Linked DNA regions of Homo sapiens: region 1 is linked to region 2. Evidence: fine-mapped expression QTL. A gene starts in region 2. The other region holds a variant in brackets. All regions are shown on one strand. Distances are between the middles of the regions. Region 1 holds the start of LOC101060445 (a long non-coding RNA gene). Region 2 holds the start of RIGI (RNA sensor RIG-I).

Region 1 (14,286 bases), 69 kb after region 2:
GACACAAATCAAAACTTTGTCAATGTTTACTAGTCTAAAAACATTTTTCTTCCTAAAGCTGGGAGATTAAGTTATCTAGAACCACCTCTTCCACATTTTCAGTGAGAAGAATTGCAGGGAAATTATTTAGTTCCTCCCTTAGTTTTACTGGGGATGGGATTCTCTATTCTCTCTTCACTGAGCCACCTTTCCATTTTGTAAAATATATTGCCAATACACGTTTTAAAACCACGAGTTTTAATAGCCATGGCATAATTTTTATCTCTTCTCCTAGGTGACAAGCTACTTAGACTCATGTGACAGAAGCAACAGAGTAAAAGTCTGTTGAGGAAGAGAGAGGCTAGACCAGATGTAGGCATTCTTTTGTAGCCAGCACACCAGGATAAGGAGTGGGGTGAGGAGGAAATGGGTTAAGTATCTGTTGAATCAGGCTATGTAATAGCATTTGGGGTTCCCGTAACACTTACAGATAGATAGGCAGAGATGGTAGGGAACAAGAAGCCCTATAACCAGTGTAGCTGGGAGTTACTGGCAGCTGGGAAGCCTGAGTTGTGTTGGTATCCCTGTCCTATCATACATGACCAGGCCCAGCTGCCCTGCTCAAAGGGGAAGGATTTGCTTTCAAAGGCTTAGTAAAGGCCGGGCGCGGTGGCTCATGCCTGTAATCCCAGCACTTTGGGAGGCCGAGGCGGGTGGATCACGAGGTCAGGAGATTGAGACCACGGTGAAACCCCGTCTCTACTAAAAATACAAAAAATTAGCCAGGCGCGGTGACGGGCACCTGTAGTCCCAGCTACTCGGGAGGCTGAGGCAGGAGAATGGCGTGAACCCGGGAGGCAGAGCTTGCAGTGAGCCGAGATCGCGCCACTGCACTCCAGCCTGGGCAACAGAGTAAGACTCCGTCTCAAAAAAACAAACAAAAAAAGGCTTAGTAAAAGTATAACGAGGTAGGGAAAATCTTATATTCTTAAGACTAAAGGGAATTATGGTTCTAGGGGTGAGCCCCCCTTTTGTGGGTGCTTTGATAAGGGTTTGGGGTTTGGGTTTGAGCATCCTGGTCCCTGTATATGGGTTTTAACGGAAGGAAGGAACTCTGCAGAACAGAGGGCAAAAGCTTGGAGCTCTTTAGGGCAATCTGCAAGAACAGGAAAGGGAGAGGGATGAGCAGAGTACTGGCAGACTGCTTTCTTCCCCAGCGCCCCAGCTGTACTGTCCATTGTCTGTGTGTGGCCTGCTGTCACTAGAGCACTCCCCATCCCCCGCCCCAGAATTCTCTGGTCACTCTGCAGCCATCTTAACATGTAGACAGCCCAGAGGTATCCAAGAACTGATTTCCATGGTGGACGCTTCAGGATTTGGTGGTGTTTCATTCTGGAGGAATAAGGGATGAACGGTATGACAGTTGTGGTTGTGAAGGTTTATTTGAAATCAGAATGAGGAGGAAGCTGTTTTTCTTTCCTCATGGAGCAGAGAATAAAGATGGGGTGAAAGAAAGTTCATTCTGAACAAAGAACTTCCAACATGCATACCCATGACTACACATAATTAAGATAGTTTGCTTTTCTCCACCTCAGTGTGTGGAGCTAGGCTGCTTCTTTAGCCACAGGTTGCATGGGTGAAGGTCAGTATGCCATAGACTTAACTTATGATTGGTTGAGCCTCTTTACCCAGTTATTGATTTTTACTTAGTTTTAAGTATAGCTGTAATAGTTTTAACTTATTAGGATTTATACCTATTGCCTAGAGTAACACTTAAAATATTTGAGATTATTAGTATTTAATTGAATTTCAGTATATAATTGAATACCATTATAAGTGAATTTTTTTAAAAAGTTGGATGCCTGAAAGGCAAGGTTATATTTTCACCTTCTTTCCTGGTAACCTCTATTCTGCTTAAGTAGTGATTAGAACCATATCTGAAAAAGAAATTAAAAAAGAAAATTAAAATTGCTCATAGGAAAATGTGTATCATATAACCCAGGGATTTCAATTCTAGAAATTTGTCCAAAGGAAAGAATGGGATAAATACATATAATGTAACAGTTTTACAACTGAAAAATTGGATTAAAAACAGGAGGCCTGGACACCCTTTATTTTTACAAAAATAATGAAGATAATTTCAGGTGGGATGGGGCCAAGAAGTGGGGAAGGGGAAATTATATTTGGTTTTTAATTTTTTAATTATTTCTTATTTATTTTTTTGAGACAGAGCCCAGGCTGGAGTGCAGTGGTGTGATATTGGCTCACTGCAATCTCAGCCTCCCAAGCAGCTAGGACTACAGGTGTGTGCCACCACGCATCACTAATTTTTGTAGTTTTAGTAGAGATGGGGCTTTGCTATGTCGCCCAGGCTGGTCTTGAACTCTGGACTCAAGTGATATGCCAGCCTCGGCATATCCCAAAGTGCTGGGATTACAGGCGTGAGCTACTGTGCCCAGCCAGTATATTTGTTTTTTTAAATCAAAACATTCTAGGTCTAGCTGGGCATGATGGCTCACGCCTATTGCGCCAGCTACATGGGAGGATCATTTAAGCCCAAGAGTTCAAGTCCAGCCAGGGCAACATAGTAGGAATCTATCTCAAAAAGGGGGAGTGGGGGAAAGGAAGCCGGGTGTGGTGGCTTACACCTGTAATGCCAGCACTTTGGGAGGCTGAGGTGGGTGGATAACCTGAGGTCAGGAGTTCAAGACCAGCCTGGCTGACATGGTGAAGCCCCATCTCTACTAAAAATACAAAAATTAGCTGGATGTGGTGGCACCTGCCTGTAATCCCAGCTACTTGGGAGGCTGAGGCAGGAGAATCATTTGAACCCAGGAGCTGGAAGTTGCAGTGAGCTGAGATTGTGCCACTGCATTCCAGCCTGGGTGACAAAATGAGACTCTGTCTCAAAAAAAAAAAAAAAAAAAAAAGCTAGATCTAATTTTTTTTTTATATAAAGCAAATTTGAATTTGAAGTGGTATGGTAATCAATATATTATCTATGTATGATCCGTAACCAATTAAAAGATATAAGGGGGAGGGAGATTTCCATTCGCAGTGACAATAAGTGTAGCTCATGCATGTAGAACACTGACTCTCCAACAGTCCCTGCAAATGCTTTACTTACATCAATAGGCTTTACAGCAATCCATACAGTAGTGCCTCCTATGTCATTTTATAGGCAGGAAACTGAGACTTGAATAGCTTCAGTGCCAGTAGATCACACAGCTAGTTCATGGTAGAGTTGGTAGAACCCATCTGTTTCACCATTACATCTACCAGCCTAATCAGAAAAGTTTGAAGCAGAAATGAGGACAAATAAAAAAATTTTACTGGGAGATATTAAGATAAAAGAAATGCCATGCTCTTGAATGGAATGACTGAATATTTTAAACACGTGCATTCACCCCAAATTTGCTTATTCACGTGTCACAAACCATATTGAAAGCATAAATGATACTTTTAACTTGATAAAATGGTTCTAGAGTTTATATAAAATAATAAATAGATGAAAATAGCTATATTTCTAGAAAAATAAAAATGGGGGTAGCTAGTAGTTTCGTATTGATAAGGCAATCCCTAATGAATGGAGATTGCCTTATCAATACAAAACTACAAGCCACCCCATTAACATTTTCATGGCTCTTAGCATAAGACTAGCCTAACAGAGAAGAGGCAACGGTGATGGGCATTTACCCTGTGCTGGGCAGGCCTGAGCAGTCATAAACTCATGTTATCTCCTGACAGTCCGTGAAGCAGATGCTATTGTCCCATTTTGTATGTAAAGAAACGAGGCACTTGCCCCAAATCACATAGCTGCTAAGTGACAGGGACACTATTTGCACCTAGGCTGTCTGGATCCACCTGGGACACGTGAAAGCATAATCTGATATGGAGAGGCGCCACCATAAACCATAAACCAGTGGGACGGACAGAATCTTCCATAGAAGACATGGAGGAAATCAGTGTGTTCTTTCTTCCTTCATGAGGCTTCAGGGTTCCTTTTATCATTTCCTCTGTTTAGAAAACTTCTTTTAGCCATTCTTTTAGGGTAAATCTGCTGATGACAGATTCTCAGTGTTCCTTCATCTAAGAATGTCTTCATTTCTCCTTTATTTTTGAAGGTGGCATTTTGCTGAGTCTAGGGTTCTGGGGTGGACTGTTCTTTTCTTTCAGCGTTTAAAAAATATTGTGCCACTTCCAGGTAGCCTCCATCGTTTCTAATGACAAATCTCCTGTTATTCAGACTGATTTCCCCCTATGGGTAAGGTGTCATTTTTTTTTTTTTTTCTGGCTGCTTTCAAGATTTTTTTCTTCAGTTTTCATAAATTTAATTATAACCTGTCTTAGAGTGTTTTTTGAAGGGGTTTATCCTGTTTGGAGCTTGTTCAGCTTCTTGAATCCTGGTTGATGTAGCTTGTTAAATTTGGGATATATTTGGAGGTCATTTCTGTGAATACTTTTTAAGCCCTGCTCTTTCTTCACTCCTTGCAGAACTCCAGTGCCATGACATCATTTTTTATAGTCCTACGGGTCCTTGAGACTTTGCGCTTTTTTTTTCCCCAGTGTATTTTTTTGTTGTTCAGATTGGGTAATTTCTGTTGTTCTTTCAGTTCACTGACTCTTTTCTTTGTCCCTTCCATTCTGCTATGGAAAGCCCATCCATTGAACTTTTTATTTTGGTTGTATCTTTCAGTTCTAAACTTTATGTCTTCCATTTCATTGTTGAGCCTTTATGTTTTCTCTTTATGTTTCAAAAGTATTTATAATTGCCCATCGAAGCATCTTTATTAGGTGCTTTAAAATCTTTCTCTTCTCAGTGTTGGCATCTATGATTGTCTTTTTTTTTCATTCAGTTTGAGATCTTTCTGTTTATTGGTATGAAGAGTTTTATAATATCATGTCCATGGTTCTAAGTTGGACCATGTTCTTAGCCAAGGCCTAGATTTTGAATTAGAATACAATCATACTATACATATGCAACAATATTCCCTGTGGCTGAAGGGGAGAGAGAAAAAAGGTTTTAGATGTTGGGGGCTGTATTAGTCTGTTTTCATGCCACTGACAAAGACATAACCGAGATTGGGAAAACAAAGAGGTTTAATTGGACTTACAGTTCCACATGGCTGGGGAGGCCTCAGAATCACGGAGGGAGGCAGAAGGCACTTCTTACATGGCAGCGGCAAGAGAAAAATGAGGAAGAAGCAAAAGTGGAAACGCTGATAAACCCATCAGGTCTTGTGAGACACAATCACTATCATAAGAATAGCACAGGAAAGACTGGCCCCCCATGATTCAATTACCTCCCCCTGGGTCCCTCCCATAACACGTGGGAATTCTGTTAAGATACAATTCAAGTTGAGATTTGGGTGAGGACACAGCCAAACCATATCAGGGGCTCTTCTGCCTGTTGTATCACTCACTGAGTTTGTGCCTGCAAATGGATATAATTATGCCTGAAACAGCGCATATTGTATATCTGGTACAGGTTTTGTTTTTTTTCCCAAGTTTTGCCAAACACTAAAGTAGAAAGCATAGTTCATATGACTATTCTATGGACATCTTTAGTGCTTTTATGAGCATTTTTGATGAAGAAATTGAAAGACTAATTGGAGGCCACAATTAAGCATTGACTAATACTAAGTTAGGAGAACCAATAAAATCTGTGATTTTACAAAGTCAGGTACCATATGTTCATGGAAGTTGTATATGAATGATTATACATGTGCGTGCATGTATATGTATTGTACGTATCTGTGCCTGTTTCTTGCTATATATGTTGTACTCAAATTACATTTGCGGTCTTTCTTTTTGCATTAGATTCTGCATATACAGACTCATGAAAAATTCATCAGAGATAGTCAAGAAAAACCAAAACCTGTACCTGATAAGGAAAATAAAAAACTGCTCTGCAGAAAGTGCAAAGCCTTGGCATGTTACACAGCTGACGTAAGAGTGATAGAGGTAAGCTGCCTTTTTACAAAGTGCCTGGTCATGTTTTAGCACTAGCTACAGCTTACTGTTGGTGAAATATTTATAATAAAACTACTATTATTTCCATTGTTACTGTGGCCATGATCTGTGTATTTAAAAAAAGCTAAGAAGTGAAAAAAAAATACTAAATGTTCAATAATAAAGAAATAGTTTTTGGCCAGGCATAGTGGCTCATGCCTGTAATCAAAACACTTTGGGAGGCCAAGGTGGGCGATCACGAGGTCAGGAGTTCGAGACCAGCCCGGCCAACATGGTGAAACCCCGTCTCTACTAAAAATAAAAAAGTTAGCTGGGCGTAGTGGCAGGTGGCTGTAATCTTAGTTACTCGGGAGGCTGAGGCAGGAGAATCGCTTGAACCGGGAGGCAGAGGTTGCGGTGAGCTGATATCGCGCCACTGCGCTCCAGCCTGGGTGACAGAGCAAGACTCTGTCTCAAAAAAAAAAAAAAAAAAGTCATGCTAAATGCAATGACGTGTCCTGGATTAGCTCCTGGAACAGATAAAGGATACAACTAGAGAAAGAGTGGTAAAATCTGTAGTTTAGATAATAGTAATGTACTGATGTTAATTATCTTGGTTTTGACAAATGTGCTGTGGTATATGAGATGTTAACATTTGGGGAAACTGGGTAAAGGGTATGCAGAAATTTTCTGGGATATCTTTGCAATTTTTCTTTAAATCTAAAATTGTTCCAAAGTAAAGTTTATTTTAAAAAATTATGAAGTTTATGTAGTATAATGAAAAACTGCTTACAAACTAATGGTAATAAGGAAAAAAGTAACCAGAACACAGAATTGTAAAGATGCTACTTTGTAGCTGTGTGAAACAACAGCAGCAAATACATTCATTGTCATTGTCAAGAGAAAAAGTCAAAAAACCTACCTTGCTACAGAAAAACAAAGGCTAGGGGAACTATACCAAAATGTATTAATATTTTGGTGGTGAGATTCCATGACTTTTTTTCTCTTTTCCTACTACCTTATGTTTTCCAAACATTCCTTTTGGGCTATGGATCACTTTTATAATGAAAACAAAATATCTCCTTATTTGTAAAATGTGACATCTGCAGATTAGCCTTCTATTGCAGCCTTATATTTCTTTCTTAAAACTTTCAGAGAAAGGGTTAGAAAAATCTCCAAAGAGAAATATGGGGTATAACTCTTGCATGGGGGGCACAGTGGAGGGGCTGGGCTGGCTCAGATGAGGAGTTATTACTTCAGGATGTTCCGTTCGTCTTCAGAAAGCAGAAATCTCTCATCAGCTCAGCTGTTTGGGCAAAAAGCCTATTAGGAGTCATATTGCTAAGTTCCCTTACCTTTCTAAGTCTGCTTCTTTAGCTGTAAAAGGTCCTTTCAGCTCCAATTTGGGTGATTGTTCTACTAAAAATGGCCCTTTTAGACCCTATGTTTTCCTGAGGGACTAGTATGTTGGATCTGCATTTGTTTCTGAGCTGTTTACTCTAAAGTTGACTCTAGGTGGGGCCTGTGGACACATTAGTCCCTGACCTTCTTCAATTGCATCTTGACCTTGGTCGTTTTCCCTGTATCCTTTGGATTGTGCCTGCCAGGGCCACTGGTGAACTTCAGCTTCACAAATTTTCAGCAAACATCGCTTCTGTTTTTGAATAATGAGTATCTACCTTCAGAAGCTGGGTTACCTGGAACCTTCTTAATCTTCTTCTTTATGAGGTGCCCAGTGTCCTCACTTGCAACCCCACCCTGCCTGTAGAGGGGAGTCAGGTGCATGGATCCTCTGGACTTTGGGTGAATCTATTTTTTTTTTTCCTCCAATTGTAAAATAAGTGAGACCCACCTGTTCTTTGCCTCAGATTATTGTGGGGTTTTCTTTTTTTTTTTTTTAAATCACAATTATGTACTGGTTCTAACGTTCTCTTTTGTGTGTTATTCCATCCCTTCATCTGTAGGAATGCCATTACACTGTGCTTGGAGATGCTTTTAAGGAATGCTTTGTGAGTAGACCACATCCCAAGCCAAAGCAGTTTTCAAGTTTTGAAAAAAGAGCAAAGATATTCTGTGCCCGACAGAACTGCAGCCATGACTGGGGAATCCATGTGAAGTACAAGACATTTGAGATTCCAGTTATAAAAATTGAAAGTTTTGTGGTGGAGGATATTGCAACTGGAGTTCAGACACTGTACTCGAAGTGGAAGGACTTTCATTTTGAGAAGATACCATTTGATCCAGCAGAAATGTCCAAATGATATCAGGTCCTCAATCTTCAGCTACAGGGAATGAGTAACTTTGAGTGGAGAAGAAACAAACATAGTGGGTATAATCATGGATCGCTTGTACCCCTGTGAAAATATATTTTTTAAAAATATCTTTAGCAGTTTGTACTATATTATATATGCAAAGCACAAATGAGTGAATCACAGCACTGAGTATTTTGTAGGCCAACAGAGCTCATAGTACTTGGGAAAAATTAAAAAGCCTCATTTCTAGCCTTCTTTTTAGAGTCAACTGCCAACAAACACACAGTAATCACTCTGTACACACTGGGATAGATGAATGAATGGAATGTTGGGAATTTTTATCTCCCTTTGTCTCCTTAACCTACTGTAAACTGGCTTTTGCCCTTAACAATCTACTGAAATTGTTCTTTTGAAGGTTACCAGTGACTCTGGTTGCCAAATCCACTGGGCACTTCTTAACCTTCTATTTGACCTCTGCGCATTTGGCCCTGTTGAGCACTCTTCTTGAAGCTCTCCCTGGGCTTCTCTCTCTTCTAGTTCTATTCTAGTCTTTTTTTATTGAGTCCTCCTCTTTGCTGATCCCTTCCAAGGGTTCAATATATATACATGTATATACTGTACATATGTATATGTAACTAATATACATACATACAGGTATGTATATGTAATGGTTATATGTACTCATGTTCCTGGTGTAGCAACGTGTGGTATGGCTACACAGAGAACATGAGAACATAAAGCCATTTTTATGCTTACTACTAAAAGCTGTCCACTGTAGAGTTGCTGTATGTAGCAATGTGTATCCACTCTACAGTGGTCAGCTTTTAGTAGAGAGCATAAAAATGATAAAATACTTCTTGAAAACTTAGTTTACTATACATCTTGCCCTATTAATATGTTCTCTTAACGTGTGCCATTGTTCTCTTTGACCATTTTCCTATAATGATGTTGATGTTCAACACCTGGACTGAATGTCTGTTCTCAGATCCCTTGGATGTTACAGATGAGGCAGTCTGACTGTCCTTTCTACTTGAAAGATTAGAATATGTATCCAAATGGCATTCACGTGTCACTTAGCAAGGTTTGCTGATGCTTCAAAGAGCTTAGTTTGCGGTTTCCTGGACGTGGAAACAAGTATCTGAGTTCCCTGGAGATCAACGGGATGAGGTGTTACAGCTGCCTCCCTCTTCATGCAATCTGGTGAGCAGTGGTGCAGGCGGGGAGCCAGAGAAACTTGCCAGTTATATAACTTCTCTTTGGCTTTTCTTCATCTGTAAAACAAGGATAATACTGAACTGTAAGGGTTAGTGGAGAGTTTTTAATTAAAAGAATGTGTGAAAAGTACATGACACAGTAGTTGCTTGATAATAGTTACTAGTAGTAGTATTCTTACTAAGACCCAATACAAATGGATTATTTAAACCAAGTTTATGAGTTGGTTTTTTTTCATTTTCTATTTGTATTTTATTAAGAGTGTCTTTTCTTATGTGATTTTTTTTAATTGCTATTTGATATGGTTTGGCTATATGTCCCCACCCAAATCTCATCTTGAATTATAATCCCCATGTGTCAAGGGAGGGACCTGACGGGAGGTGATTGGATCACGGGGGCAGTTGTCCCCATGCTGTTCTTGGGATAGTGAGTTAGTTCTCATGAGATCTGATGGTTTTATAAGTGTTTGACAATTCCTCCTTTACACACACTCTCTCTCTCATCTGCTGCCATGTAAGACTTGCCTGCTTCCCCTTCTGCCATGATTGTAAGTTTCCTGAGGCCTCCTCAGCCATGTGGAACTGTGAATCTATTAA[G/A]CCTCTTTTCTTTATAAATGACCCAGTCTCAGGCAGTTCTTTATAGCAGTGTGAAAACAGACTAATACACTATTGTTTAAGAACTCCAATAGGATGTGTAAAACATCTACTAGAAATAGATTTAATAAGATAAAAGTTATTATTATTATTTTTTTTTCTGAGATGGAGTCTCACTCTGTTGCCCAGGTTGGAGTGTAGTGGTGTGATCTCGGCTCACTGCAACCTCTGCCTTCTAGGTTCAAGTGATTCTCCTGCCTCAGCCTCCCACATAGCTGGGTACAGGCACCCACCACCACACCCGGCTAAATTTTTTTATTTTTAGTAGAGTCGGGGTTTCACCATGTTGGCCAGGCTGGTCTTGAACTCCTGACCTCAAGTGATCCACTTGCCTCGGCCTCCCACAGTGTTGGGATTACAGGCGTGAGTCACCATGCCTGGCCAAGAAAAGTTCTTTTAAGTATGTAAATGATTCAATTTGGATGAAGGTGAATAGCCCTATTCAGCCAACTGAGGCAGGCAGACTGAAGTGAAAATAAATAAGGAGAACTTAGCATTTCCTTGTTTGACTTTTAATGGAATAATGTCATTGCCAGGCATGGACTCAAACAAAGTAGGCACTTGGTTAATATGTATTGAATGAAAGAAATGAGCAGGTAGGCTTTTAGGAAGTGGATCTTTTGACTGACTCCCAAATGCTGGTCATTGCATTTCTAGAACAAAGGCCACATTTTAGAAACAACTGGGGAGTCTTTTTCATGGACACATGCCCAGCCCCATTAGAGCATCCTGGCAGGGTGTCCAGCCGTGTATGTTTTGAAGCTCCTGTGGTTCAGACACAACCTGTTACACAACTACCACCTTGTTATCTCTGTGGTCCTGGCCTGTGCTGATGCTGTGATATTTTCACCCTGAAATGAAGAGTCATCCCAACATCAAGGTCAGTAAACCAATTCCTGTCCTTAAAATGGATTCATTATTATTTGAATTTCAAACAACAGACCAACCATAGCTCAATGTTTCTCAAGAGTATCCTGTGGAGCACAGTGCGTGAACGCCCAGAAGAAAGCAGTCTGTGGTCAGGTGGGTTTCTGTGCCATTTGCTGCCACCTTCCCTGCAAACAGTGATTTACAGCACACATTGTTCTTGTGTCTGTTCTGCAGTGATAAAACCCATTTAACTCAGTGGTTCCCAAATGTACTGACCGTGGAACTGTTTTACTCAGGGGACACTGTTAACATCCTGTAGAAGCACAGTAGCAGGTATCCAGCCTGCATACGATAAGACAACCAGAACCAAATTTGGCAGGTACATGTCTGGAACTCTGTTTCATTATGCCGTAAAATAAAACTACGAATTTCATTCAACAAATCTGTACTGAATAAGTAGGCTTCACTCTTGGGATGTCAACTTTTAAAACTTACTTAATATCAGCTATCGTTATATAATCTTTGTTCATAATGACGCTGTCTGGTTGAACACAAACTGGCTGGGTGTTAAATTCCACTTGTGTTTATGATATTTAATAATGTCCTAAGAAGGCAGCCAGTAGAACCTTGGCTACTGTTTTTCAAAAGTGGCTCTGCATTGCTCCTACATAACCCCGTACATTACTCCACAGTCCTGTTAGAGCCCTGAAAGGGAAACTGCTAAAAATAAGGTTCTTCATTTAGGTGACTAGGAACTCCCAATATTTTTGCCCTAGGGAATACTGGGAGACAAATCTCTACGATCACAAATTACTAATGGTTTCCCCAGAACTGCTGGTGGCCATATCCCCTGGCATGTGGAAGGGCCCAGAAGAGGCCACTCTACTGCAGAGGCCAACAGAAGGTATGATTGGTGGAGGGATGGGGGGGTGGTTGGAGGGGCAAATGGAAGGGAGCTTGAGTCACTAGATCCAATCAAGCCCATAGTCATGGCCACCACTGTCCTCAAGTTCTATGAGCCAGCTTTTTTTTTTTTTTCCTTAAGCTAATTTGAGCTGTGCTTCTACCACAGCTAAGATTCATGCCTAATATATCTTTTCCCTAGATTACTCCCTATGTACCATAAAAATCTGGTGTGTAAATACACATGAAGGGCATCCCTCATCCTTATTTGCTATATTAAAAATATTAACTAACTCTTAGCTTGCTGCGGATGCCAGGAATGCAGTAATGAATTTGGAAAACTATCCAAACAAACAGGGGAATCTTCATTCGCAAAGAATATGGGAGGGAGAACAGCAGATTTTTAATTTGGATAGTAAGACGAGCAGCCCTTAAAGAACCAGGTAAAAGAAGTTGGTTTATTTAGGCTTGTTAGTGGGCAAGGTTGAGACACTGGCCAAGATACTTTTTTTTTTGGGGGGGGGGGGGGTGGTGATTGATTGATAGGGTCTCACTCTATTGCCCAGGCTGGAGTGCAGTGGAGCAATCATAGCCACGACCTCCCAGGCTCAAGTGATCCTCCCACCTCAGCCTCCTGAACAGCTGGGACCACAGGTGCACACCTGGCTGATTTATTTTATTTATTTATTTATTTATTTTTTTTTTTGTAGAGTGTTGCCCAGGCTGGTCTCAAACTTCTGGGCTCAAGCAACCCTCCAGCCTCGGCCTCCCAAAGTGTTGGGATCATAGGCATGAGACACCGTGCCTGGCGAAGATATTTTTACCGAAAAGGACAGAGGGTGTACTTGGAGGTAAGGGACCCAATTCCATTAGTCTAGCCACAATAATGTGTTTGTTTCCTCATAACCACAGTCTTGGTTGGGCTGCTGTAACTAAATATCAACTGGGTGGCTTATAAACAATAGAAATTTCTCACAGTTCTGGCTGGAAAGTCTAGGTTCAAGGCACTGGCAGATTCAGTATCTGGTGAGAACCCACTTTCTGGTTCACGGATGGTGACTTCTTGCTGTGTTCTCCCATGGCAGAAGAAATGAGGGGGTCTCTATCTTATCTTGAGTCTCTTTTAAAAGGCACTACCCTCATGATCTAATCACCTTCCAAAGGCCCCAGCTTCTATTACCATTACCTGGGGGGTTAAGGTTTCACCACCTGAATTTTGGGGAGGATACAAAAATACAGACCACAGGAGCCACTGAATGCGGGGAGCGAGACAGCTCCCCAGCTGCTCAGTAATGGAGAGCTGAGAGGGTGGAGGTCTGTTTTCTCAGCCATTCTTAGTGTTTTTATTCTAGGACTGATCTTAACTTGAGGATCACAGGTTTTTTTGTACAATGGAGTTCTGTTTGTTTGTAATTTTTTTTTTTTTTTGAGACGGAGCTTTGCTCTTGTAGCCCAGGCGGGCGTGCAATGGCACGATCTCGGCTCACTGCAGCCTCTGCATCCCGGGTTTAAGCAATTCTCCTGCCTCAGCCTCCTGTGTAGCTGGGATTACAGGCACACAATACCACACCTGGCTAATTTTTTGTATTTTTAGTAGAGACGGGGTTTCACCATGTTGGCCAGGCTGGTCTAGAACTCCTGACCTCAGGTGATCTACCCACCTCGGCCTCCCAAAGTGATGGAATTATAGGCATGAGCCACTGCGCCTGGCTGTTTGTTTGTAATTTATTTTTTAAATGAATATAAATAAGATCCCCAGGACCGCAAGTGCAGGGATGCTAAATAACCTGTCTTGATCCCTCATCTGGTGAGAAGTAGAAAGAGGATTAGATTCCAGATGTTCTGATGACCAGGCCATATCCCCTGAGTGCTAAGGTTGACATTAAAAATTCATTACAAAGATCCTGCCCTCCTGTCCTTGGACATCACAGCTCCTGCTTGTTCCTGGGCATTCAGACTCTGGGACTTATACCAGCATTCCCCATGCCCCTCCCCAGGTTCTTAGGCATTTGGACTTGAACCAAGTTGTTATACCACCAGCTTTCCTGGGTCTCCATAAGAGTGGGACCCTGATCCAATACAATTAGTGTTGCTGTAAGAAGAGACATGAGAGCCTATTTTCTCTCTCCCCCACCAGGCACATACCAAAGAAATGCCATGTGAGAACAAGCAAGAAGGTGGCCATCTGTAAACCAGGAAGAGTGTCCTCACCAGAAAATGAAGTGGCTTCAACTTTGATCTCAGAATTCCAGCCTCCATAACTGTGAGAAAATACATTTCTGTTCTTTCAGCCAGTCTATGGCATTACATTATAGCAACCCAAGCAAACTAAGGCATGCCCAGAAATGACTACAGGGGTAAAAATGAGCAGATAATTGGTTTTTAGTGTCCTGAAGTTTATCTGCTTTTCCTTATGTACTTATATCGTTGCCACTGCCACCAGGCTACTCTTCCTTCTTGTCTGC
Region 2 (17,152 bases):
TTAAATTTTATTTGGTTTTAATTAATTTAAATAGCCACATGAGGCTAGTGGCTACCACATTCTTTATTTTTAATTTATTTATTCTTTTTAGTTGGGTTATGTTTCTAATCCACTCTTTTTTTTTTTTTTAATGTTGTAAAGGTATACAACATTCCCACCATCACAGATGAAATAGAAGATACTCATCAGGAGGAAAATTTCCAGTGGGCATCTGAAAATTGGAGTGTGAATCTTGGAGGCAAGATTGGGGCTAGAGAAATGATTTAGGAGTTGCTGTGAAACAGAGTAGTACTGAGGCTGTGGGAGGATGAGATACTCCAGAGAGGAGGTAGAGCAAGAGAAGCAGACGTAAGTGAGAATTCTAGGGAACATAATATGAAAAGTTGGCTGGCAACAGAAAAGAAACTTTCAAAAGAGGCCAAGAAGTGTTTCCCATAGTCCCACATACTTTCTTTGCCTCTTCAATTTTATGTTGTGTCTCCTGTATCTAATACAGTGCCCTCGTCACTATGGAACATAGACTTTTTGAGAGGTTAATCTTATTTTTAGGTTCTTGGGAGCACCTCACTCTTACTTTCATGTGATGATTATGTTAGAAACCGTTGCCTTGGTGGAGCAGGTTAGGCTGCCTCCAAGGAAATCTAATAGGATTTTTAGAATATAGGACTGGGAAGTACCATCTTTAGATTCTACTCTATCAGTCACTCTCCTTTGCTTTCCTTCATGTCCAGTTATGATTTTCCAGATAATGTTTTAATCACTCTCCTTGCAATACCCTCCAACTCACTTGCCCTTCTTTCTTTCATCATTTACCTACTTTAGGAGTTGGGAAACTTTTCCTCTAGGGCCATACACAGGCTGTGTCACATAATCTTTGTTTTTTTCTACACTTTTTTTCAAATTGAGGTGGAGCTTTGCTTTGTTGCCCAGCATGGTCTCAAACTCCTGGGTTCAAGCAGTCCTCCCATCTTGGCCTCCCAAAGTGCTGTGATTACAGGTGTGAGCCACCATGCCTGGCCTACAACACTTTCTAAATGTTAAAACAATTTTTAGCTTTTGGTCTGTACAAAAACAAGACACGTGCCAGATTTGGAATGCAAGCTGTAGTTGGCCTACAGTTTACCTAGCAAGATCTCAGTCTGGATGAACCCAGCTCTTCGGTTCTGCGTACGTGCATGCTGCTAAGTATTGTGAAGGAAATCAGTAACTGGTAACCGTGCAGATTGGTGTACATCAGCTTCATAAGCTGTACGACATTAGAGGGCAAGTTTTTGTAGTATTCTTGCTCATTGTATTTGACAAAATGGCTTCTTTACACCTTTTTCTCCTCAAACCTATTTCTCTCTACCACCCATATATTTTAGAGATAGGATTGAGTGACTGGCTGGGCAGTTATGATCAGCACAGGCTCAAACAGAAACCCTGCCTGTTTACCAAAACCAGTATCTGCGTCATATTAGTTCTTAGAGATACTGCCTGCCAAGACTGTCTTGACTGGCATTCTTGTGTGTCTTCAGTCAGCTTGTAGGTCGGCTGATCTAAGCCTTCACCTGGGGTTACTGGGCTCTATGTGGTTTCTCATCCTCCAGCACATTGGCCTGAGCTTGTTTACGTGATCTGACCAACTCATCTAATATAAGCAGCCCCATTACTCCTTATTCCTTTTTCTACTTTATTTCTCCTCACAGCACTTATTACTATATAACATCTACTTTTCTGTCTGTCTCCCTCACTAGAATGTGGTAAGCTCTAAAGCCATATTCTCCACTTTAGTCATGGTAATACCATTCTCCCAGTTGCTCAAACCAGATACCTGAAATTTATCCTCGATTTTTCTCATTCCTTTCCTCTGCCAGCCACTCAATCCTGTCTCTAAAATATATCTCAATTAACTTCTTACACTCTCTGCCACAGTGTCCTTATCTATGCTGCTCAGCATCTCTTACTTGAGTCACCTCCCAACTGATCTCATTCTGGCTAGGAGCCAGAGAGGTTTTTAAAAAATGTAATCAGATTATGCTATTCCTTGATTAAAACCCTGCAGTATGGCCGGGCGCGGTGGCTCACACCTGTAATCTCAGCACTTTGGGAGGCGGAGACCATCCTGGCTAACACGGTGAAACTCTGTTTCTACTAAAAATACAAAAACAAAATTAGCCTGGCATGGTGGTGGGCGCGGGAGAATGGCGTGAACCCGGGAGGCAGAGCTTGCAGTGAGCCTAGATGGCACCACTGCACTCCAGCCTGGGCAACAGAGCAAGACTCCATCTCAAAAAAAATAAACAACAACAACAACAACAACAAACCCTGCAGTATGTTCTCACTGCACTTCATTCCTTGCATTAAAGGTGCTGCTGTTTCAGCTCCACTTGCAATACCATTTACTTGTTGCTCACAGAGTTCCAGCTACAAGCATCTTGCATCTTTCACTTTTTTTAAAAAACTCTTCTGTGCATTCTGTCTCCTACCTGCTTTTTTTTTTTTTTGAGACGGGGTCTGGCTCTGTTGCCCAGACTGGAGGGCAGTGGCGTGATCTCGTGATCTCGATTCACTGCAACCCCTGTCTCCCAGGTTTAAGCAGTTCTCCTGCCTCAGCCTCCCGAGTAGCTGGGACTACAGGTGTGTGCCACCACACCCAATTTTTTGTATTTTTAGTAGGGATGGGGTTTCACCATGTTGGCCAGGCTGGTCTCAAACTCCTGACTGCAAATGATCCACCCGCCTTGGCCTCCCAAAGTGCTGGGATTACATGTATGAGCCACTGTGCCCGGCCTACCTGCTTTTTTTTGAATAGCTAATTCCTTCTCATTCTTCAGGATTCAGCTGAAATGTGACCTCCTCAGAAAGGTATTCCCTTACCACTGTACTGAAATAGTTTTCTCCATGTCACTTCACATTTGGCAGTTACTATTTGTGTTTTTACATCTTTATTGTGTCTTCTTCCTCCTTCAATCAGACTCTAAGCTCTTGACAGAGACTCTTTTCCACTTATCTCCATGTATCTAGTGTTTTTCACAGTACCTGACATACAGTAGATATTCTGTAAATGTGTTGAGTAAATTAATGCCCAGGTGAGGAGATGGTCTAAGACTGAGATTTTTTTTTTAATTTTTAATTTTTAATTTTAAGTTCTGGGGTACATCTGCAGGATGTGCAGGTTTGTTACATAGGTAAATGTGTGCCATGGTGGTTTGCTGCACCTATCAACCTATCACCTAGGTATTAGGTGATAAGATATCACCTAATCCTTCTGTGATCTTATCCTTCTGTGACACTCCCCTTCTTTCCTGGCCTTGGTCAAATTTTACCTATGAATCTGTCAAATGATTCCATTTCTGGACCTTCAGTTCTTTCAGGTATAATCTATACTGTAATTGTTGATGTTTTCTAAATCTGTTGTTATTCAGGAATACATTATTTCCCACTAGTAGCATAGAAGGAGGCATGTCTTTACCTTTTTAAAGGAATTTTGGATCTGATTTCTTTTTCTCAGCTAAAACCCAAATCCAGGTATTGGAAGAGTAGCTTGCATGAGATAATAATTATAAACATAGGCAAAACATAAGGGTATAAAGAACTTGAAGCCACTGGAGGGCAATCAAAAAGCAGAAACTGGAGGGAATTAGACCCTTGAAAGACGGAGATGACACTGTATAAGAACAGTTTCTTTGGCATTTCATCTGAGGGTCATCCCCGGTCCATAGGGAGACTAGAATGCAAGCAGAGAGCCACAGACATTGTGTCAGAAGATGGACCCTGGGGCTGCCCGAGTGACTGCATTTTGAGGGAGAAATTTCAGAAAGTAGACACAGAAAACAAGCCCTAAAATTTTTGTATAACTTTCACTCAAATCTTTACCTGACCCTGAAATGTACATGTGCAGGGAAGATTCCAAAAAGCCCATGTAAGCAATAGCTGGAAAGCTAAAAGGGCTCAATAGATACATTTCAGCCACCACCACAGGGAATATAGAACTTGGAGGTTGAATCCCACCAACTTAGATGGGCTGAGAAACATGTAGGACTTTTCACTGGAACATGCAGGGCCACAGCTTACTGTGGAAGACTATGACTCAGGACTAAGGACTTACCTTGCAAGAAGGGCAAAATTTGAAACAGACCTACCACAGTGTGTAAACAATGCCTTTGTAAGTTTAAAGTAATTCATCGGTAATTCAGTGGAATGCTAGAACAAAAAGTAATACTCTTGAGAGTAAAATAATAGAATCCAGAGATTCTATAATACATCTGTAGCATCCAGTATAAAAAAAATACTAGACATGTGAATGAACCCATAGTCAAGAGAAAAAGCCGTCACCAAAACAGGTTCCAAGATGGAATTCACAGACAAGGGCTTTAAAGACACTATTAGAAATATGTGTATGAACTTAAAGGAAAAGATGGTTTAATGAATGAACAGATAGTGGTTCTCAGCTGAGACATGAGAAGTAGAAAAAAGAAACAATGGAAATCCTGGAACTACAAAAAAAAACAAAAACAAACCTAAAATGAAAAAGTTACTGGAAGCCTTAACAAATTGGAGAAGACAGAAGTGAAATAACATTAGTTGGAAACCAGTGTTTACCAGAGGCAATGAATAGCACCAGAAATAGCAAACAGCATGGAAAAACAAAAACTAATTTTTTTCTTATTTTACTTAAAAGACAACAAGCTATAACAAGGTTTATAACATTGTATTATTGTAGTATGTATTTTATAACATATAGAAGTACAGTTTCAGACAATGATAGCAAAAAGGATGGGGTGGAATTACATGGTTGTGATGATCTTATATTTTACCTAATGTGGTACAATATTAGTTCTAAATAGATTAAGTTGAGGATACATATTATAATCCTTAGTGCAACCACTAAATACACACACACACACGTATAAAATAATATGTAGAGTGTATACAAATATATATGTGTATGTGTGTATGGAGAGAGACCTATAGCTAAAAGAATACAAAGAGTTATAGCTAAAAGAGGTTAAAGTTATATTTGATTAACGTATATCCAAGGAGTCCATTTTACTGGATGACACAGCAAAACCCTGTCTCTTAAAAAAATAAAATTATTGAATTAAAAGTTTGTTCTTTGAAAAGATGCAATTGGTAAATCCCTGGCAAGACTGATTTTTTAAAAAGGCAAAAAAGATAATAAGGTCTATCACGAACACCATATGCCAATACATTTAACAATTTAGAGGAAATGATCAAATTCCTTGTGTTAAAATATAAACTTTTCCACATTAAAATTTCAAGCTGGCCAGGCGTGGTGGCTCACACCTGTAATCCCATCACTTTGGGAGGCCAAGGTGGGTGGATTGCCTGAGCTCAGGAGTTCGAGACCACCCAGGCAACATGGTGAAACCCAGTCTCTACTAAAAAAATACAAAAAAATTAACTGGGTGTGATGGCACATGCCTCTAGTCCCAGCTACTTGGGGGCCGAGGCAGGAGAATCTCTTGAGCCCTAGAGGTGAAGGCTGCAGTGAGCCAAGATTGTGCCACTGCACTCCAGCTTGGGCTACAGAGTGAGACTCTGTCTCAAAAAAAAAAAAAAAAAAAAAAAAAAAAAAAAAAAAAATTAAGGTGTTCCAGCAGTGATTCATAAATTAAGCAGCTACAAACCAGAAATGGTCTGGGGCTCTGTTAGAGGGGGTTGAAGGGACACAGAGCAAAGAAATTGTTTCATTGGTTAAAGTTTGAGTGTTTGCCTTATTTGGACTATCCAAGTGAGAAATTTATGACAATATAACCAATGTCCCAGTTAGCCAACTGTGATTGGCTAAACTAAGTTTCATTTTCCTCATGAGGGTGTTACAGCTACATCAGTCTAATGGCCTACCAATTATTTTAACACTTGAGAAGCACAATTTATCAAAACTGATTAAAGATTAAAAGTCAGAATAGCTTTATATCTAATTGAGAAATTGAATTCATTATAAAGAATCTTCAAACAAGGAAAATGTCAAGCCCAAATGGTTTTATTAGTGAATTCTGTTAAACATTTAAGGGGAAAATGATACCAATCTGAAACAAACTCTTGCTTTATGAGACTAGCATAACTCTGATATCAAAACCTGATAAACACATTACAAGAAAATAAAATTATTGACTAATATTCCTCATGAACACAGACACAAAAGTATTTATGAAAATACTCATTTGGTCATGATATAGCATCCTTTGTATCTAAAACCAAATGAGATTTATCCCAGGAATGGTAGGTTGGGTGAACGTTCAAAAATTGATCAGTGAAATTTGGTATGTTAACAGAATATATGATCACCTCAATAAATGCAGGAAAAAACATTTGAAAAATTCAACACCCATGCATTATAAAAACTCAGCAAACTAGGAATAAAAGAGAACTTCATCAATCTGATAAAAGGTATCTAAGAAAAATTTACAGCTACCATATTATTTAAAGTGATTATTATTACATTGATGATTTCCCCACTGAAATTAGCAATAAAGTAATGGTGTCAACTGTCACCACTTTTATTCTATTTTCTATAGGAGGCTCTAGGAGGTACCATAATAAAGAAAGGAGGCAAAAAGCATGAAGACCGGAAAGAAAGAAGTAAAACTGGCTGGGCATGGTGGCTCATGTCTGTAATCCCAGCACTTTGAGAGGCCGAGATGGGCGATCGCTTGAGTTCAGGAGTTTGAGACCAGCCTGGGCATCAGGGCGAAACCCCATCTCTACAAAAAAATACAAAAATTAGCTGGGTGTAGTGGTGTGCACCTGTGGTCCTAGCTACTCAGGAGGCTGCAGTGGAAGGATCCTTGAGCCTGGGAGGTGGAGGCTGCAGCAGCCTGGTTGACAAAAGTGAGACCCTGTCTCAAAAAGAAAAACTATAATGAAAGGAAATAAAAGGCATAAAGATTGGAAAGGAAGAAGTTAAAGTATGTATTCACAAATGACATCATTATTTATCTAGAAAACTTAGAGGAATTTACAGAACAATTACTAGAACAAATAAGTGAAGTTAGCAATGTTGCATGTTTTAAGGTCAAAAAACAAAAATCACTTGTATTTCTTTTTTTGTGTGTGTGTGTGAGATGGAGTCTCACTCTGTCGCCCAGGCTGGAGTGCAGTGGTGCAATCTCGGCTCACCACACCCTCCGCTTCCTGGGTTCAAGCGATTCTCCTGCCTCAGCCTCCCGAGTAGATGGGATTACAGGCGCCCACCACCACGCCCGGCTATTTTTTGTATTTTTAGTAGAGATGAGGTTTCACCATGTTGGCCAGGCTGGTCTCGAACTCCTGACCTCAGGTGATCCACCCACCTCAGCCTCCCAAAGTGCTGGGATTACAGGTGTGAGCCACCACACCCAGCCAATCATTTGTATTTCTATACCGTAGCAACAGACAATTTGAAAATGAAATCTTAAAAACAATTCCATTGACAGTAGCATCAAATAACATAAAATAGTTCAGAATAGCCAGGTGTGATGGCCCGTGCCTGTAGTCCCAGCTACTCTGGATGGCTGAGGTAGGAGGATTGCTTGAGTCCAGGTGGATCCCTTGAGCCCAAGAGTTCAAGGCTGTAGCACACTATAATTGTGCCTGTGAATAGCCACTGCACTCCAGCTTGGGCAACATAGTGAGACTCCGTCTGTAAAATAAAATGAAACAAAACTAAAATACTGCTGAGAGAAATTATAGACCTAAGTAAATGAAAAGGCATACCATGCTTATGGATTAGAAGACTCAATATTGTTAAGATGTCACTTCTCCCCAAGTTTATCTGTAGGTTCAATGCAATCTTGATCAAAATCCCCATAAACTTTTTTTGGGGGAAGGAAGGGGTAATTGACAAGTTGATTCTTATTTCATATGGAAATGCACAGGGATTCAAGGTTGCAGTGACCCCTGTTTGCACCACTGCACTCCAGCCTGGGAGACAGAGTGAGACCTTGTCTCAAAAAAGAAATTAAAAAAAAAAAAAAAAAAGGAATGCAAAGAATCTCAAATAGCTAATATCTTCACAGTGAAAAACAAATTTGGAGAACTTAGTAGTACTTGATTTTGAGACTTAGTTGAAATCTAAAGTAACCTAGAGACAATGGTATTGTCAAAGTAGTAGGAAGTAGAATATAACAAGAGTCAGAAATAGACACATATACATTCAATGGACTTGGTTTTTTTACAAAGGTCCCAAGGCTATCCAATGCCAAAAGGAAAAGTTTTCAACAAACGGTGCTGAAACAATTAGAAATATGGAAAAAGTGAACCTGGACCCCCCATCTCACGCCACAACAAAATTATTTTGAGATAGTAATAGACCCAGAAGTAAAGGCTAAAAATATAAATCTAAAAGGAAACAATATTTTCATGACCTTGGGGTAGGCAAAGATTTATTAAAGAGGACACAAAAAACAACAAACAGAAGAAAAACCTGAAAATTGCATCAATATAAGTGTCTGCTCCTCAAAAGACACCTTTAAGAAAATGAAATGGTAAGCCACAGACTGGAAGAAGATATTTCGAATACATATATTTAACAATTTTGTATCCTGAATAAATAACTCCTGTAAATCCATAAACCAAAAAACTCCAAAGTCAGGCAAAAGATTGGAGCAGATGCTTCACAAAAGATATATGAATGACCCAGTAAGCACATGCAAATGTGCCCACCATTAATTATATGGGAAATTAAAATTAAAACCACAATAATATACCATTTCACACCGACCAAGATGGAAGTTAAAATTAAAAAAAAAAAAGAAAGGCTGACCAATGTGTCTATCTACTGGAGCTCTCCTACTGCGGGTGGGAATGTAAACTGGATGTAATCAGTCATTTTGGACAACAGGTGGCGGTTTCCTATAAAGCTAAACATAGACTTACCCTGGCACCCAGCCGACGTGGGAGAACTGGGTACACAGGTGTACACTTTACAAAACTCATCGAATTGCACACTCAGATTGTGTGCATTTTACTGTGTCTAAACGTTAGCGCTATAAAAGCAAAACAAAATATAAGATCATAAAAATAAAAGCAATTCCTAGGGGTCCTCTCCGTTCCCGGGCTTCCTCGGTGCGGAGGGAAACGAAACTAGCCCGAGGCAAAACAGCCTCCGCGAACCCCGCCCGCCGCTAGTTGCACTTTCGATTTTCCCTTTAGTTATTAAAGTTCCTATGCAGCTCCGCCTCGCGTCCGGCCTCATTTCCTCGGAAAATCCCTGCTTTCCCCGCTCGCCACGCCCTCCTCCTACCCGGCTTTAAAGCTAGTGAGGCACAGCCTGCGGGGAACGTAGCTAGCTGCAAGCAGAGGCCGGCATGACCACCGAGCAGCGACGCAGCCTGCAAGCCTTCCAGGATTATATCCGGAAGACCCTGGACCCTACCTACATCCTGAGCTACATGGCCCCCTGGTTTAGGGAGGGTGAGTGTCTCCAGCGGCGCCTTCTCGGCGGAAAACAATTGAGGACTTGTTTTTCTCTTGCTTCGTTCCCTTCTTTTAATCAATGCAGAGAGCCTGCCAGACTCCCCAGGTTTGTGGTAAGATCTCCGCAGCATTTTAGGCTAGAGGTTGCCAGAGTTTGAGGAGCCCTCGGAGGCCTAGGTGGGGAAACTGAGTTCCAGCGAGGTGAAGTGACTTGCTTAAGGGTGCTCATCTATTTAGGTTCAAAGCTGGGGAAGAAATTTTGTTTCATTTATTTTCACTAATATTAAAGTCTACTGTGTGCTTGGCTGGGTACTGACAGAGATTGAGAAATAAGATAAGGGCTCTTCCTTAGTATACATTACAGTCCAAGGGATGGGACACAAAGGGCAGATAATTACAGTACTGAGCACAAAGTGCGGTCTGAGCTTAAAGGAAGTTGATGCTTACTCTGCCGAATCTTATTTGCACGCCTAAAGAAGTGGAAGCTGGAGAGGAGCCGGACTTTTCCAGACCGAATAGCTTTAGGCTTTAATACAGGTGTTTCCATCTAACTTCGGAGACAGGTGATCCTGGGTAATGACCATTTTGTAAATTTGTATCGAATTACTTTGTGCTGGAGATGAGCAGAGGCTTCTGGGAAAGAGGTGAAAGGAGGTGGTACTTAAAAGATATCGATGAGGCCGGGCGTGGTCCCTCACGCTGTAATCCCAGCTGTAGAGCACCCGATGCTGTTGCTGTTCGGGGTGCCACTATGTAACCCGCACGGACCTAGGGGACTGAACAAAGAGGGGCGAACGCGGGAATAAAAGACAAGAGACAAAAGAGTATATCTGGAAGAAGGGGTCAGGGGGCACCTTGCCTCTAGTGGACAAGGGCCCTGAGCTTTACACAGCCCTTCTTATTAGGCAAAAGAGATAGCGAGAAGGGGAGGTGCTTGTTGGCTGGCTGCTTGATTCACAGCAGGCTTGCAAGACTGCATTCTTTGAACAATAGGTGCTAGATTTCTCAATAAATAATTTCAAGGAGCCTGGCGCCAGGGAGTGAGGCGCTCAGCAAACCATTTGGTGGCAAGGCAGTGTGAGTTTGCCCAGGTGCTGCATTCATGATAAACAGTTTGCTGTTTGATCATATAGCCTCCAGCGGAATGCTGAGTTGGTCACATCCCAAGGGCCTTCGGCTCCCTGCAGCCAGCACTTTGGGAGGCCTAGGCGGGTGGATCACAAGGTCAGGAGTTCGAGACCAGCTTGGCCAATATGGTGAAACCCCGTCTCTACCGAAAAATACAAAATTAGCCAGGCGTAGTGGTGCACTCCTGTAGTCCCAGCTACTCAGGAGGCTGAGGAATGAAAATCGCTTGAACCAGGGAGGCAGAGGTTATGGTGAGATCGCACCACTGCACTCAGCCTGGGTGACATCGTGAGACTCTTGTCTCCAAAAAAAAAAAAAAAAAAAAAAAAAAAACCGAAAAACAAAAAAAAGTCGATGAGAGGGGGCCTGGGAATCCTAAAAGTCTCCAAGTGCCAGTCTTTCCTGATGTTATTGCAGTTTTTGGAAATGGCGTTAAGACCGGCAACTAACTTGAATGCTAATTGCTCTACAAAACTAAAAGAAAGGTTGTGGAATGGCATTCTAGTGACCAGTGTAGCTTGGCACCTGAAGAAGTACTTGGAAGAAACACTAACAACTGGTGTGAATTCCATTTTTTCATGCACTCATATATTGATTTGATACACTTTGATGGAATAAAATAAGCAACTCGTGTCAGTATTATGTTAGCATTGGAGGTAATTTACTCAGCACCTATTACCTAATAGTGTCATTGAAAGTTGAGGAAGCAATGATGAGCACAGTAGAAACTGTCCCTGCCCTAATAGTGATTAGTGTGTCTATGTGAATGCAGGTAACAAAATAGTAAATAATAAAGTGCAGCAGTGCTTTGATGGAAAAAAGCTGGGATGTCTACTAGAGTCCAAAGGGCACAGCCAAAGCTTCCCAGATATTTGGCATTTGAACTGAGGTCTAAAGAAAGAGGAAAAATTAGCTGGAAGGAGACAATAAATTGCAGTTAGAGGGCTCCTTATGTGCAAAGGTCCAAGGTGAAAGAGAAACTAGAGTGTTCCAGGTATCCAGAAAATATTAGTATGGTGGCATTGTGGAGAGAGAGGCAGGAGTTCAGAGAGATGAAACTTGACAGGCAAGCAGAAGTGGGATATGAACAGTTTTGGACTTTATCCACTGAAATGTGATAAGGAGAGGGGACCAAAATAGAATTTGCATTGTAGAAAAACGACTTTGACTTCAGTTTGAGGAATGGCTTGAATAGGTACAAGACAGGGAGAGAGAGAATGGCAGATGCAATGATGCCAGGACAGCAGAGTGGAAAAACTGGAAGCAAGGATACCAGTTAGGAAAATAGGAATCCGGAGGAATGGGGAGAAATGGATGGATTCAAGACACATTTGGAAAGTATAATCAATAGGTCTCTTGGGGAGTTGTGGTGAGGAGGTAAGGGTGAGGACAGGGTGGAAATGACTTCCAGGTCTCTGGCTTTGGTCCTTGGGTGAATAAATGGTAGTTTCTGAGATAGGAAATGTGGGAAGAGGGACAGGTTTGCAGGAGGAGGAGAAAAATTCGGATTTAGGTATGCTGGGTTTGTATGCCTTGGATACATCCATGAAGAGATGTTCATCAGATTGTTGGCTGCACAGGTGTGGAGTTCAGGAAAAGGGTCCACAGTTGGGGAGACATTAATGTGGAGATCCTTGCTGAAACAATGAGAGTGGGTGCAATTGTTACTGAAACACCAGGGATTCAGCCTAGGTTCTTTTGCTGGCTGCACATAAAGCCAATCACTGAGACAACAAGTTTTGCCAAGGCTTTAATTGGGAGCTGCAGCAAAGGAGGTAGGAGATCAGTCTCAAATCCATCTCCCTGACCCGTTGAAATTAGGGGTATGGATAGAAGGAAAGAAATATAACTAGGTGTTGGAAAATGGACTCTGGAGGGGTAAGGAAGCAATCATGATAAATGAGGGGCCTGGTGTCTCATTGTCTGGATGTGATGGTCTGATGAGTTTCAGTTCTTTTATACCTTTTGAGAGGCCTGGGGGTCCTTTTCCTGGGGAAGGAACTCAGATAAAACAAATATAAGTTTCAGCTTTAAGATCAGGAGGGTCAATTTCCATGTTTATTCGAAAGAATTGTATATGGGACTATTGTGTTGGTTTCAGTCCCCCTCTTTCTATTTATCAATTCCTGGATCATGGGGAATCTGATCCTCAATCTTTCTGGCAGCTTCATGCTGAGGAATGGCGTGGTGGGCAGTTCCATACTATGGGTGACCACGTGGCCATCCAGGAATCAAAAGTTAATCTAATACTATAGTTTTCTTCTGAGACACAATCTGTATCATTACTGTTCCCCGCTTCCACCAAAGACATATCACAGCTGGATGGGCCTACCTGCAAAATAAGCCTCAGTTACATATACTTGGCTTATTTACCCACACAAAGTGCAGCAAAAATTATTGTCCATATGGGCTCTCCTAATTGGCTTTGCTGGAACCTCTCACAAGGCCATTTCAGTCAAAGCCCTGGGAAAATAACTTGTTCCTCCAACTGTGTCCCCTTATAAAAGAAAACAGATTTTTATTAAATGTATGCAAGAAAACACATTGCCATGAACTAAGAATATTCACAAATAGTTTATAAATTCTGGAGAAATTAGGGAGAGAGAAAATGCCTCAAATTCTGTTTAAAAGGGTATACTCTACTTAATATACTGTATTCTTAAAGGTTATGAAGAGCTTAAAAGAAAAAATTCTCCAGATTCCAAAAAACAAAAATTCTCCAGACTTTTTCAAACAAAACCATAAAAAATTATTTCAGTCCCACATTAGTTCAGTCCATGCAATCAACTCCTGCTGTGTTTCATATTGGGTTAGTAATCTTTATAAACATGTCAGCCTTTTAATTAAGAGGGACTCTAATTAAGAGTCCTAGAAGTTTTCTGTATTCCAGTGGCACAGTCTCCAAAGTTATCAGAAATCTGCATTCAAGACTCCTTTTCATGAAGTCCCCTAAATAAACAAGCTCTGGACTATATCTGATTATAAGTCACTTTTTGAAAAGAATCAATGCAAAACAACAATTGCAATGACAAAAGTCTTAGGAGAGCCATAAAGACACAGTTGACAAGGAAATTTTTTTTTCTGTTGGCATACAACAATTTAACATAATAATCATCATTACTGACACCATATATTAAGACATATCAGAATTTTAGGAATCTCATATAGTCCTGCAACACATATTAATAGCACATCTATACAAATATAACCCAAAGGAAGTTAAATACCACCTCACATTTGATAATGCTGCCTGTATAATTCTAATATACCAAAGAAGCCTAACATGTCTGTCTGTATTGGAATTCAAGGAAGCTAATACACAAAAAAGTTAGTTTGAGGTTAAAAAAAACCCCCTGAATTTAGAACTTGAAATATTTGCTGTTGGGAAGTCTGTCAGTATCAAAGATTTAAGACACTTGATATCACAAAATAGGATCACAGGTCGCTACAAAATAGTTATTCATTTAGCCAAAAAGATAAAACAAACACATTTACCCTTTGATAGGCGACTCAGTTTCCCAACAATAAGGCCTAATAAAGACAGCATGAGGCCAACTAAATGTCTCTCCCTCTTCCTTTTCTTCCCCCCACAGTTCACTCAAAAGGTAAACAAATATTTTATGTCAATATTATACAAACATTTTATTCAAAAGAGAACATCAAATTTTACCTTTGTATGGTATATTTTTAATGTTAAAGCTAATTTTAATAAAACCTTATAAGCCGAATTTTAATCAGTTTGACTATAAGATAGGATTTCTGTGAAGTTTTTTTTTTTTTTTTTTTTTTTGAGATGGTGTCTGGCTCTGTTGCCCAGGCTACAGTGGTGCGATCTTGGCTCACTGCAACCTCTGCCTCCTGGGTTCAAGCAATTCTCCTGCCTCAACCTCCCTAGTAGCTGGGATTACAGGCCATGCCACCACACTTGGCTAATTTTTGTATTTTTAGTAGAGACGGGGTTTCACCATGTTGGCCAGGCTGGTCTCCAACTCGTGGCCTCAGCTGATCCGCCTGCCTCGGCCTCCCAAAGTGCTGGGATTACAGGCGTGAGCCACCACACCCGGCCTGAGTCACCAGCCCCGGCCTGAGCCACCACGCCCAGCCTGAGCCACCACACCCAGCCATCTTTTTATAACGTTTTACGATTTCCTATTAAAGAGTAGAGTAATGCTCCAAGAAAACCCTGTTATGACACAGGGGCCCAGACATTGGCCTTGCATCAGTGTGCTTTTGATGTTAATGTTTAATTTATAGAAAAACCCTGAACTAATTTTATAACTCAAAATCAGCCCTTACAAGCTCACGTGCTCACCTTTTGTGCAATAGTTCCTGGGCGTAGAGGGATTGAATGGTTTTAATTTCTAGCCCTATGTCTCATGAAAGCAGTTCATTTTGATTGTCACCTTCTCCTGAGTCTGAAGACGAGGCTTCATTTGGTGTCAGTGCTCAAGATTTAGCAGGTATTGGTGTCTTTTTTGGATCCAGGAGTCAAAGGCCTTTGAATTACTAAATAATTGTTTCCTAAGAATTATTTAATAGCATATTTATACTGCAGGAAACCTCATCATTCTCTCTAATATGTCACAAAATAAAACCCTGGGATTTGGTGCCTAGTAGTTACTGTCTGAAACACTTCAACCCATTATACAATCCATTGTATTAAAGTGGTTAGGTTACTCCTTGCATTTATCTGCTAGCATTCTAGTGACAAAACTGTGACCTAGAGCCTCAAAAATGTGGTAAGTCCTGTGCCAAACTTACCAAAGTAAGATAGTTAACTTTTCTTTCCATCATTAAAAAAAAAAATGGTAAATGCAAGTATCAGTTTTGGAAATTCAATATGAAGATAAATCTTTCATTTAAAAAGTATACAACAAAACAAGGACAAAGTGACAATAAGCACACAGTAATTTCTTTTCAGCTATTTTGAAAGAGCCTCATCATACATTTCCAAGATTGGTTTCTAGATAAAGTACTGACAACTGATTTAAGTGACTTACACCACTAGAATCTTCAAACTGGCATAACACTTGTATGTACATATTTTGTTTTCAAGTATACATGTGAAGGCCCATCAGTGATAAATGGCTTAGGATAAAAAAAACACTAGAAAGTCTTATAATTTTTTTTATGACTTAATCCAAGTAAATGTTATTTAATCTTAATAATAGTAAACACAACTAAATTAGTTTGAGAGAAAGCCCAATCAATATAATTTCCTTAAAGACAAAGCCAATTTTTTTCTGAATATTAAGACTTTGTACCCATATAGCAGTTTTGCCTCATTAAAGGAAAAGATCTGAAACCGCTATTGTTTATTGAATTGAATTACCTTGGAAATAAACACCACTTAAACATTTCTCTCACCTACTTTTCCAAATAACCAATAATAATGTACTATTTCTGTTCAGAACTTAGAAGAATAAACCTTTTATTATTTTTTGCCAGGAATCTTAAAGTTCTTATAGCTCTCTAGTTCATTAGAGGTAAGCAAAACCAAACAAATTTTAAAGGCTGGTGTCCACCAACAATTTTTGGAAGCTTGAAAAAGGTAGCTTAGGAACTTTGGATAAGTAGAGCAAATGATGAGATACTGGAAATGCATAGGAAACAAAATGATTATTCATGGAACCAAATAAAAGCCTTCCTTACATTAGAAACTAAAAGCCATCAATGGTTTTATTAATATGTATATATAAGTAAAACCTAAAGAAGAAGAAACAGCAAATAAATGCAAATTAAAAGAAAAAACAAACAGGAAACCAACCTGAAAATTTTCTACTCAGTTTAACTTGGAGGCTATAGTGTTACCCAGAGCCAAAAAAACACATGATGAATATTTTGTTCCTGATGCACAATTTAATGTCTTTAAGTTCACCAATACCACTATATATTTTGTGCAATTAAGAAATTCACTTTAGGCTGGGCGTGGTGGCTCAGGCCTGTAATCTCAGCACTTTGGGAGGCCAAGATGGGTGAATCACTTGAGGCCAGGAGTTTGAGACCAGCCTGGCCAACATGGTAAAACCCCATCTCTACTAAAAATACAAAAATTGGCCAGGCATGATGGCACACAACTATAATCCCAGCTACTCTGGAGGAGGCCGACCAGTAAGTATTATACTGTAATGATAGTATATCTATGCAGAAGAGCAAATACAGTGTGAAGCAATGCAAGCATGTAGGTGAAATTTGGTTGTTGCTATATCTGGCTTTTATCTGGCTTCATGGTTAACTATATTAAGAAAGGATTGCCAAACTGCCAATGTGTTTCTTTACAATATTTCTTATTTTACTTTCATCAAGACTAAGAGCTTTAACTATGAGCAGTGTTAATTAGCCAGATTTCTCCAATATTCTATCTGGTTTTAAGAGAATATTATTTAAGCCTTTTATACTTTGTATTTTCTCTGTCTGTACATAAAGGTAGACACACAAAGAAATAGGAAAGAAACTACATGACTTACACACACCATCTATGATATGCTTAGACTTTCTGATTTGTCCTGGATTTTCGTTCTTTTTCTTCTTCTTTTTTTTTTTTTAAACAGTCATTTTACTTTAGGACAAAAAAAATACCATTATAAGATGCTTTGTCATACAAAATTATTTTCTTTATAAC

What was found.
Region 1: its variant is fine-mapped to the expression of RIGI in whole blood (TOPMed, PIP above 0.99). The same link has a PIP of 0.9 or more in T cells, blood mononuclear cells, lung and monocytes.

The regions. Positions count from the first base shown.
Region 1 is chr9:32,451,028-32,465,313 of GRCh38, reverse strand. It overlaps ACO1 (aconitase 1), which reads right to left. Exons shown (of 21, transcript NM_002197.3): 21 at 10,545-14,286. RIGI (RNA sensor RIG-I) reads left to right here. Exons shown (of 18, transcript NM_014314.4): 17 at 5,800-5,943; 18 at 7,896-10,012. The coding sequence ends at 8,192. LOC101060445 (a long non-coding RNA gene) reads right to left here and starts at 6,272. Exons shown (of 1, transcript NR_197444.1): 1 at 1-6,272. The variant G/A (reference allele first, on the strand shown) is at 9,992.
Region 2 is chr9:32,518,308-32,535,459 of GRCh38, reverse strand. RIGI (RNA sensor RIG-I) reads left to right here and starts at 9,264. Exons shown (of 18, transcript NM_014314.4): 1 at 9,264-9,399. The coding sequence starts at 9,294. RefSeq lists an enhancer at 9,114-9,363.